2 separate regions of the Homo sapiens genome follow, and region 2 is linked to region 1. A link means that fine-mapping ties the variant in region 1 to the expression of a gene that starts in the linked region. Tissue or cell type: gastroesophageal junction. Region 1 holds a variant in brackets; the other region holds the start of a gene. All regions are shown on one strand. Distances are from middle to middle.

What was found. PIP is the estimated chance that this variant, and not a neighbour inherited with it, causes the effect.
Region 2: ZMIZ1-AS1 starts here. The variant in region 1 is fine-mapped to the expression of ZMIZ1-AS1 in gastroesophageal junction (GTEx, PIP 0.91).

Annotation. Positions count from the first base shown.
Region 1 is chr10:79,018,279-79,023,640 of GRCh38, forward strand. All of the region lies in intron 5 of ZMIZ1-AS1 (ZMIZ1 antisense RNA 1), which reads right to left. It overlaps LOC112268062 (a long non-coding RNA gene), which reads right to left and starts at 2,679. Exons shown (of 2, transcript XR_007062214.1): 1 at 1,637-2,679; 2 at 1-1,062. RefSeq lists a cis regulatory region at 4,913-5,362 and an enhancer at 5,103-5,362. The variant T/C (reference allele first, on the strand shown) is at 2,893.
Region 2 is chr10:79,064,898-79,070,259 of GRCh38, forward strand. ZMIZ1-AS1 (ZMIZ1 antisense RNA 1) reads right to left here and starts at 2,551. Exons shown (of 10, transcript NR_024431.2): 1 at 2,491-2,551; 2 at 1,551-1,689; 3 at 850-922. It overlaps ZMIZ1 (zinc finger MIZ-type containing 1), which reads left to right and starts at 4,069. Exons shown (of 25, transcript NM_020338.4): 1 at 4,069-4,373. RefSeq lists silencers at 2,110-2,319, 2,360-2,409, 2,510-2,719, 3,520-3,589, 3,850-4,829, enhancers at 2,983-3,828, 5,030-5,079 and a cis regulatory region at 3,702-4,387.

The sequences.
Region 1 (5,362 bases):
AACACCACCACAATTGCCATGGGTTGCCAGGCAGCCTGGCAGAGGAACACTGCAAGGACCCGTCCCTTCATGGCAGATTCAGAAAGGCTGAAAGGCGTTATGGTCAGTCAGGGAAGACCCAGGAGCCACTCAGGCCCACACAGACCTCTCTGTGTGCCACTGGCCTCTTGCACCCCTCCTTTGACTGTGACGTTCTCCCCTGGAGGGATCAAGAGGTCAAACCAGGCACTCAGAAAGGCAAGGGCCATAGTAGGGTGACCTTGAGTGAGCCACATGATGTCTGGGAGCTTTGCATTCCTTGCCTGCATCATGGCAGATGTTTCCTCTCTCCCACGGTTCTGGGGAAGAACAGAGGAGAGAATGTATATGAAACCCATTCACCCAGTAGGTTCCTGGCCAAAGCAGGTTTCCTTCCAAGGGGAATGGGGTGGGGCGGGGGTGCCACAGGCAGGGAGAAGATCTGAGGGCCTGACTCACTGGGTTCTCTCCCAGGGACTTAACCAGGGTGGCGTGTCTGCACTTGAAGCTGCAGCAGGCACCTCTCAGGCCTGTGGCTCCCAGCTCTAATTACAGATTTCTGGACATGTTTCCTGTTTGGGAGCTGGCAGTGTCCCCGCAGAGGATCCACAGATAATGAGCAGCTGGCTTCAGAGGCTCCATCCATGGGGCACTGACCTGGGAGCAGGCCCAAGCAGGCCCGCCTCAGACAGCAGAAGGCCCTCAAAGGTCATCTGGTCTCAATTCTTCCCCACATCACACTCACACAGGACCAACACCGTGATCACCATGACCAGTCTCTGCTTGCACGGTTCCAGTGATGGGCAGCTCACCACTTCACAGCCAGTCTGCTAATCTCTAGACATCACTCAAGACAGCACTGGAAGCACTTCCCAAATCAGTTTGTCCTTTAACTTCTAGCTATTGATCCCCAGGTCCACCAAGAACAATGAAACATGGAACAGAAGAAGGGCGCAGACCCTGGGATCAAGAAGAACTGGCTTTGGTTCCAATCTTAGTTTTTACGCTTGCAGTCTTGGTCTCTTTGATCCTCAATATTCTTCTCTGTAAAATAAGAATAATGCTATCCAGTATGAAGGGCAGCTGGAAGAGTGGAAGGTCATAACACGTGTGAACACACCTGGCACACAATAGACACCAAGTGCATGCAATTCCTTCCCCTTTCCCTCTTGGACACCTGCATTAGGTAGCTTTTTTAGGATTATAGATCAGAGACACACACTCAGATTCAAGCAAGTGACCGGCCTGAAGACCACAGGTACACTTGGAGGATAAAGGGGACAGAGGCCACCTCTTCTGCCACACAGTGGTGTCTCACGGCAAGCTGGAGGAGCCCAGGGTCCCGAGCCTTCCCCTTTCAACTCCCGAGTGCAGCTGAATGTCTGTTGAATGAAAAGAGGGTGGATGGCTGGCTGGATGGTTGGATGGGTTGATGGATGGATGAATGGACAATGGAACCATTTAAATAGGTTTCTAAAACCTGCCAGGAAACACCCACCCCTTTTAATTCTAGCCAAACTGAATGTCATCTTTTTGTCGAGAAATAGAGTAAAGCAGTGATGTTTAAACTTTTCTAAGCATCAGAAGAGGACTTGTGAAACAGATTCCTGGGTCCTACCTCCAGAGATGTTAATGTTCTAGGGTGGGGCCTGAGATGTTGCACTTCTAACCAGCTCCCAGCTGTGGCTGAAGCTGTTGCTCCACAGGCCACACTTTGAGTGTTGTGGAAGAAAGCAGACAGTCAACTTACAACACCCTTTGGAAAACAAGCACAGGAGCAAGATGAGGTCACTGGCCTGGGAGAGTTCAGCAGGAGGGAGTGCCCCTCCCAGCCCAGGGGTGGAAAGTGTGTTATGACACCAGCCCCTGCCTCCCACCACTTCAAATCTTCTGCTTTCCGTCTCCAGCCTGGGATCTCTCAGAAGCCCCTGTGACACCACAATGGCTTCATGGCAGATAGGGCTCTGGTCCAGAAGATAACACCTCCCCACAGGAGTTCAGGCTGGATGGAAATCTCAATAAACAGGGCGGGATGTGCAGAGGGTAAGGCAGGCCATCCACTCACTACAGGCCTTCCAGCAAGGGCTAGAAGGCCTAGAAAGAAGAGTGTAATCTTCTGGCTTCCCAGACACACACACTTGCACGCGCACACACACACGCACATGGAGGAGGGCCCAAACCTCTCCCCTAGACACCCAGAAGGTCTTCATTGCTTGGGACCCATCCAGCCATGGTTCCCATGGCTGATGGTAGTAGGGCCTCACTTCAATATTCAGGTCAGGCACTAACTTGCTGCATGGCCTTAAACATGTCCTTTCTGTTTTCTGGGTCTTATCTTCCCATCTGTAAAACAAGGTAGATGGATTAGGTCTTGCCTAGAGAAGGAACTGACATTACCTGAGCCACTGATATGTTTATTTATTAACTTTTCTCTCCAAAATATTTGATTGAGCAATTCCTATGAACCAGGACCTGATCTATAGCACTGCACAGGAGAGATGAAACAAAGCTCATGCCTCGTGGAGCTGGCCCCATGCTTTGCACGAAATGCCTGATTCCTATGATCTCATTTAGCCTTTACTACAGTCACCCACAGGAGTTGGGTGCCATCATCCTTGCTTTACAGATAAGAAAACTGAGGCATCGGCAGGGTGCGGTGGCTCACGCCTATAATCCCAGCACTTTGGGAGGCCGAGGTGGGCAGATCACTTGAGGTCAGGAGTTCAAGACCAGCCTGGCCAACATAGTGAAACCCCATCTTTACTAAAAATACAAAAATTATCCAGGCATGGTGGGGCATGCCTGTAATCCCAGCTACTCGGAGGGCCAAGGCGGGAGAATCACTTGAACCTGGGAGGTGGAGGTTACAGTGAG[T/C]TGAGATTGCACTACTGCACTCCAGCCTGGGCAACAGAGAAAGACTCTGTCTCAAAAACAAACAAACAAGCAAAAAACTGAGGCACAGATAAGAGGCAGGGCTGGAGTTTACACTGTCAGTGGTTCCACAGACCATCACGTAACCCTGAGACCTCCACTCTTGACCAAGCCCATGTCCTCTAGTTCTCTGTTTGGGTGAAGGTCATCCCCTCCTCAGCACCCTTCCATCAGCCTCCAAAGTCCACACCCCACAAGGAAGCGGAAAGACTGGAGGCTGCAGGGAAGGTGGTTCACACTCCCCGCCCAGATTTGGAGGTTCCAGGCTGGGCTGAGGCTTCTACTTCCTCCCCGCTGAGAGGGCAGCTCCGGGCCAGGCTGCTCCCTTGGCACGGGGTGCCCTGAATCACAGGTGCTCTAGGGGTGCTGCCAGGTTCTTTTCAGGGCCCCCATCCCCACCCACCCTACTCATCATTCACCCTTAGTGCCCATACATGACCTGAGAGGCAGAGGGAGCCCATCCCTTGGGTGCTAATGCAGCATGGCATCAAAAAAATGAGATCGGTCCAGCATCTGTGCATTTACCCACAAGATTGCAATCCAGAACCTAGAAAGAGGCTATTTTAACTTCAACTTGCAAGGAAGCTTAGCGTCACTATGGAAAATAAACTTGATGTTGAGCTACGCAGGGTGGGACTGGACACCACCATGATCCTGTCAGTACTTGGGGCGTCAAGGTCTCAGCCAGCCTTGGCTCGATGCCTCACTTTCCCACTTTGAAGATGTGCCCAATCATTTTCTACTGCCTGGAAAACTTCTCCTTTCCCTTCTGCCTCCCCTAAATGCTCATTTTTCATGGCTTCATTTACCTACTGCGTCCCCCAGGAAGTTGTTCTTAGCCCCGGCTGCCCCCAGTCCAGCTCAAAGTTCCACCACTGGACGGCTGAGCTCTGGGAACCCGGTGCCCTGCCTAGGCTAGGCTGTTTGCTGGGTTCCTCTGGCCTTCCTCAGGGTAAGGAAGATCACCGCACACCCAAGAGGCCCTGCAGGGCTTCAGGCACCACCTGAGTCACTGCTTTTCTTCGAGAGCCTGCAAAGCTAGAAGGCAGTATTTGCCTTTTACGCTGTCTGATGCAAGCATACTGTGGCATTTTTCTAGAGGATTCAAGACCACGCGGCTCTCAAGAAGTCGAATGCAGAAAGAAGCACACAGGAGAACCCAGTTGCCTCCTCTGAAGTGAATCACCAGAGAGATTCACAAAAACCTAAAGGAATGTCACTCTTCTGCTCAACTTTCTTTGTTTTAGGAAAATAGTTATTTTTTATGAAAAATATACGTTCATGTGTAGTGTTTATTCTTGTTGTTCTTAAAGAATTAAAAAATATTTTGTAATTTCTCAGTTTTAATTTTTAATGTGGTAAATATCCAGAGATATTTAACAATATTTTGCCTAAACCAAAGCTCTTTCGGGTCGTCAACAACTTTTCAGAATGTGACAGGGTCCTGAGGCCAGGCTTGAGGACGGCTGGAGGAAGTGTCCCGCCCACCACAGCTGATTGGATGAAGGGCGGGACCTGACTAGTGGGCAACCAATCCAGAGGCAAACGGTGGTGTGGGAATCGGCAGGGATTGAGGGGAGCAACAGGGCTATGCACGGTGAACTGGGCAGGCAGCCGAGGGAGAGGGCCTGTAAGGAGGCCTGGAGGGAAGCCAGGGAGGAGTTAGGGCCGCAGAGCAGCCACGTCTATAAGGAGCAGGGGCTGAGGTCCAGGCCAGATACACAGGAAGAAATGAATGCAGGAGACGGCGTGCAACAGGAAGAAGCAGAGAAGCAGCGGAGACGGAGGTACCTGGGGATGATGCCAGGACTGCAGCTTCAGGGACTTGTGGCAGATGCACAGGGTGCCTCTGGCTCCCTGGAGCTCCACACTGCAGTCCCAGCTCTGTCTGCAACCCACTGCTTTGATTCACCCAGGTTCCCACAATGATGCTCGTTTCACTCAACCCTCCCGTACTTGAGGTCAGCTGAACACCTCTTTTCTTCCCAACCAAAATAGCCTTGAGTTCTGTCCTGGCTCTGGGATCCAGCGGTCCCTCGCAGTCAACGTGGAGATGCTGAGTGCAGCTCATCACGAGGACTGACATCATCACATATGTAAGGGCCTGGCGTGTGCCGGGCCCTCAACAGGTGTGGCTAATATTAGCATGCTTGCTCCTCCCTCGACTGCTACTGTCATTATTAGCGGTGGTATTAATATCACAGCAGGAAATGGTCTCCAAGGTCACAGAGCTTAAGCTCTCAGTTTTACTGAGGGATGAACAGCAAGGCCAGGAGCAGGTCAGAAGCAGAACTGGAACCAGAGCCCACTCTCCTGTCCTGTCCAACCGGTCCCAGTGAGAGTGTAAGCTCCCTGGGGGGAGGGGCCATCCAGCAACCCCACATCCACACAACCGTCCACTCCTCTTCTCAGA
Region 2 (5,362 bases), 47 kb after region 1:
ATGAATGAGATTTTCTTCCCACCTCTCTAGTCTCAATTTTAGATGTTCCCTGGCTCCCTTAAGTTCCAGAAGTGAGAGGTGGAGAGTGGGGACAGAGAAGGCAGCTCCTGGACAGGTGGGAATCCCCACTGTGTACCCGCCCCCATCCCAGCCCAGCCTAGGAGGCCATACTCGCCGCACCCTACACAAGTCCTTTGCTTCCCTCAGGGACCTCAAGCCTCCCACCCCCACCATCCTGCTGGCCTCCAGATTTTCTGCCTCCTGAAACCTGGGCCCAGGCCCCAGCAATGGTCCTCTCCCCAATCTGCTGGTGGCTCCCACAGGACAGGGAAATTAACAGCACTTGAGTGTGCTCTGAAGGTTGGTACAACCTGGCGGCCCCACACTGCCCATGCCCTCCTAGTGGAGCCAGGTGACTTCTGGGCCTGCAGGGGCTGAGCAGGATGCATCTTCCAGCTCTGGGCCACGAGGAAGTGATGGCACTGTCCTCTCTTGTCTCACCAGCAGATCTCCAGGCCCAGTGAGGCTGAGACTTTGGGGGTGAGGTTGTTGGACACACAGTTCCCAGTGAGTCCTGATGGCACCATGGACCTTACAGGGGCTCAGAGGGGGAAAGCAGCTTGCTTGGGGCTACACAGTCTATGGATGAACAGAGCCAGGGCTGAGGGGACAACAGGAAACTCTGTTCATGGGGGCCCGAGTTCCCATCCTGACCAATCTTGGGCAAGTCATTCACAGTTGAGTTTCCTCTGAAAGGGGGATGGTAGCGGCACCTAACTTAAGACAATGTGACAGTTCAATCAGGGAACTGAATTCTCAATACCTAGGAGGACCCACCACAGTACTCACCACATAGTAGACAGTAAATAAGTCATAGCTTCTTCCAAGACCCCAGAGGTATCCAATCTACCCCATTACCTCCCTGGAAGATGAACAAAGAGAGCAAGGGCCTCAGAGACCCAAGGACTGGAGCCTAGGGAAGACCCAGGACCCTGGTGGGCTTTCTGACTTGCTGCCATGCTTGCACAGAAGGGGAGGGTTGAAATGATCCCTGGTTCCATGCTACTAAGTTGAGCCTACTTGGCTCCTCTGCCCTCTGCAGCCACTTCCTGGGTTTCAGATGTAAATACTGGTGGGAGAGTAGGGGGCTGGGATGTGGGGTAGGGGGTGGAGCTTCTGGACAGGAGACTTTGAACATGAGTGGTCACCTCCGAGGTCACCTGCATCCCCCAATTCCTGGAAGTGGGCAGGCCCTGGATACTTATTGAGGAATCTGGACAGAAAGGTTGAGAGGGCTGGGCGTCCAGACCTAGCTGGTCATTAAGGCAACAAGAACTGGTCTAATTGTGGGCTGGGCTGGATTATCACATCCCAAATCCTTAAATACCCAGAAACTCTCTTTTGGGATTTTGGACCTGGGTATGGGGTGGCTGCTGCCACTGCTGCAATGCTGTGGATTGCTGGGAGTGGGACAGCTGTGGCTGCAGCCACCGTTCTGCAAGCTTAATTCCTACCTTCGGAGGTTTCTCAGGTGGCCCTGGTGTACCTACCTGTGAACTTAGGCCACCCACAGGCTGAGGAGGGGCTCAATCACACAGCAATGTGCTGGGACCATGACTCCCTGGTGTCCCTAGAGGTCTGGAAGTGCTTTCATACCACCCACCCTCTCCAGGGATGCTCAGCTGCCACCTACAGGGAGGGCGGGGGTGGAAGAGCAGCAGTCATCACAGTCCATGTCCATGTGACAGGTAGGAAGACTGAGGCCCCAAAGGAGTGCCTTTTCTTGCACCCAATGGCATAGGGAGGCAGAATTTCCCCTGGGGAAAATAAAATAACGCCCCCACTCCGCCGCCTGCGCCCCCACACACCCCGTCCCCCACGCCCGGGTGGACCTAAGCAGCAGTTTTCTGAGCTTTCAGGAATTCCAGACTGAGTTCACTGGCTGTGAGACTAGCGGAGCCTTGAGAATGAATTCAAAGCTGGCAAATTCATTTTGCCTCCTCTCCCTCGGTGGTGGAAGGAGTGATCTCTCCGGCTCTGAAGGAGTTCAAGCCGAGGTCAGCGAAGCCCTCAGAAGGATGTTCTAAAATGGGGGTGGGGGGTAGTGCTCCGGCCTGCTTCCCCGGTTGGCCCAAGGTCCGCGCTGATCACCGCCCAAGAGGCCCAGGAGACCCGCAAATCTGTGCTGCACGTCCGCACTCCCATGCGGGCCTCGTCAATCAGGAGGCGGCTCCGGCCAGGCCTGGACATCTTCGGCCCGCCCCAGGCCCCGGGGGAGACCCCCGCCTGGGCCGCCTCCGGGTGCCCGCCCCCCGGCGGTGTCATTGTTCTCTGACGTCACGCCTCAGCCCCGCCCCTCTCCCCCCACCCTTCCTCCCCCACCTCCGGCTCCCCGCGCCCCCGACCCTGCAGCCTCCGAAGCCCCGGCCGTGCAAGGCTCCCCCCGCAGCCCGGCCGGGGCTGCGCCCCCTTGCGCTCTCCCCAACTTGCCTTTGTTATTCCAGCTCCCTTCCTCGCCTCGCCTCCGACACGGTGGCAGCCTGCAAAACGTGGAGCGCGGAGTCACTGCCACACCTGGAATCCGAAGCGGGCTCCGCCGGCTCCCGGCCGAAGCCGCCCCCGCCTGCCGGGGAGGGGAGCGCGTGCGTGGGCGGCGCGTGTGTGTCCAAAGAGGGCTGCGCGGGCGCCAATTATGATTGGGACTGGGGGTGCCGAAAATCAGGGGTGGGGGGCCTCGAGGAAGGGGTATGGAAGAGGAAGTGGGAGAGGAGGGCGTGTGTTTGTGTGTGTACGTTAACGTGAGGATTTAGTGCCCAGGGGAACGTTTCGTGTTTTGTTTTTTGATTGTATGTGGGGTTGTGTACAGCGATGTGTGTGTGTAACTGCGTGTCTCTGAGCGTGCCTGCTGTGGCCGTGTAAGCGGGCATCTTTGTGAGGGAAAGTAAGCGAGTGTGTGGGGGCGCGTTTGTGGTTTGGGGGGGAGCGTGTTTGCAATGCTGAGGGAGCGAACGTGTGTGCCGTTCTTGTAGGAGTTTCCGTGAGAGTGGCAGTGGACGTGAGCCAAAGTGGGCGCGTAGTTGGATGCTCTCGGGGGGGGGGGGTGGGTCGGCTAGGGGAACTCCCGCGAGTGGGTGCACCCAACTGCGCCTCGTGAGTACCTTAGCTCTCCGCTATCTCTGGCAGTGCCCAGTCCGGGGCAGAGGGCCAGGCCCCAGCCTAGCAGCTCCCACGCAGCCCGCGCGCACAGCGCCCCGGGCGCTCCGCGCCGGGCCTAGGGGAATCCACGCGTCTCTGGACTGTGCTAGGTGCCGCGGATCAACTGTGGCCACCACACCCCCGCTCCCCCACAGCTGTCGGGGGGCCGCGCTCTAGTCTCCCTCAAAGTCACCCTTGGTGGTGGTGGTCCTCTTCCCACCCCAACCACCAGTCCCCGGGCTGTAGGAACAATTCCAAAGTCAACCCCAGGGGAAGGCTTTGGAGGTCCAGTTACCAACTCGCTTACCCCAATTCGGGTACCTGACAGCGCCCGGGGCCACGAGTGCACTCCAGGCGGGGGCGTGCCAGCGCGGGGCAGGGGCTCTCGGGTGAGCAGTGTGATTTTGGCTTCCTCCCCAAGGTGGTCCCTACCTAGGCTCAGCATTTGTTCCCCTCTCCAAACTTACTGGGGCTGGGGCCTGCAGGGGGGCTGGGGGCTGCAGGGGGCGTCAGGGAGTAGCGGAGGGAGTAGGGCAAGGAGAGAGGTGAGTGGACTGGTGGCGTAGCGGGGAACCAGGAGCCAGGAGAAGAAAAGCTGGGAGAGCGCCGAGACCGAGGAGCGAGGAAGAGAGGAAGAGAAAGGAAAGGAAAGGCGAGGGAGAGAACGAGGAGAGGCGAAAAGGAAAGGGGAAAGAGAGCGCAGAGCGCGAGCCAAGCCGAGCGCCGGCAGCGGCGGCGGCGCGGCGCGGCGCTCCACTCCGGCCTGACTCCGCACCGGCTTTTGCGGGCGGCCGGCGGCGCGGGGCCCTTTGGAAATAGAATAGCCAATGTAATCTGACACTTCAACTTGCTCGGCTCCGGGCGAGTTGATTCACTTACTCACCCCCTAACGCCGAGTTCCTTTTCACTGTCTGTGGACATTAAAAAAGCGAGCGGCGGCGGCGGGCGCCGGGGAGAGCGGGCGGCCGGGCGGCAGGCGGGCGAGCAGCGATCGGGCGGCCGAGCGAGCGAGCAACGCCGGCGCAGCGCGGTGACCCCAGCCCCAGCCGGCGCGGAGCAGGAGCCGGAGCCGAGCGGATCTCGGCGCCCTCGCTGCGCTCCTCCCGGCCCGAGCCTGCCCTACCCGGCGGTGGCGGCGGCGCGTCCTCCAGCGGCGGCAGCGGCGCTCGCAGCGCCCGGTAAGTTTGGGGCCAGAGCCAGGCGCCCGCTGGCTCCGGGGCTACCTCCCGCTCCCCGGGGACTCTCGGGGTGCAAGCGTGGGGATTGGGTGCTGGGGTTTTTCCCTTAAAGTGTCCCCCGGAGCGGGGCGACCGGCCGGCGGCGCGGGCTCCGCTCCGCTCTCCTTGGCGGCCGGGGGCCGAGGCCCGGCGGCCGGCGAGCTCCCGGCTGCGCGGAGCCGGCTTGGGCTGCGCGTGGGGGCCGGGTTTGTCAGGGTGTGCGGGGCGTAAGTGTGGTCGTGCGCGCGCGGACCCGGTGCCCGCCTCCTGCCGGCGCGCCTCCAGCCCTCGCTCCCTACACCCGGGGGCCGGGCAGGACCGGGAATCGGAGGAGGGAGGGAAGGACCGCCTCGGTCTCCTTCGCCTCCTCTGGGGAGATGCGAAGTTGTGCGCCTGTGTGTGTACAGGAACCGCTGGGGAAAGCGCTGGATTTCAGGATGGCAAGGGGTGGTGGTGTTAACTTGTGCGTCTGAATTTCCAGGGAAAACATACACTTTTGTAAATGGGAGGTGGGGGCGCGGTTAAGTTGTTTGTGTGGGAATTGCCCGGGGAAAGCTGGCGCGCGGTACAAACGAGAAACGCGGAGGTGTGTGTGCAGGGTTTTCTCCCAGGGCTTCGCAAGCCAGAGGGGCGCTCAGGCCAGTGCCTGGACGGGGCTGCCCCGGCCAGGAGGGGAGCCCAGGGGGAAGATGTGCGTGTGTGTGCGCGCGCGCGTTGCAAATACGAAAGTAATTTCCCCGTGTTCTTTCTTCCTCTCCGTCTCCGGCGGCGGTGGCCCCGGGGGAGTGGGAGGCCAGCCGGGGCGGAGGTTGGGGGGCCGGGGCTGGAGCCGGGGTCGGGGGGGGGAGGCGGGTTCTGGAAGCTTGCTTCACATTCCTGGCGTCTGGGCTGGGGAAAAAACAGTGGGGAGCGCGGCCTCGGCGTCTAGGGCGCGGGCAGCGGGCGCGCGT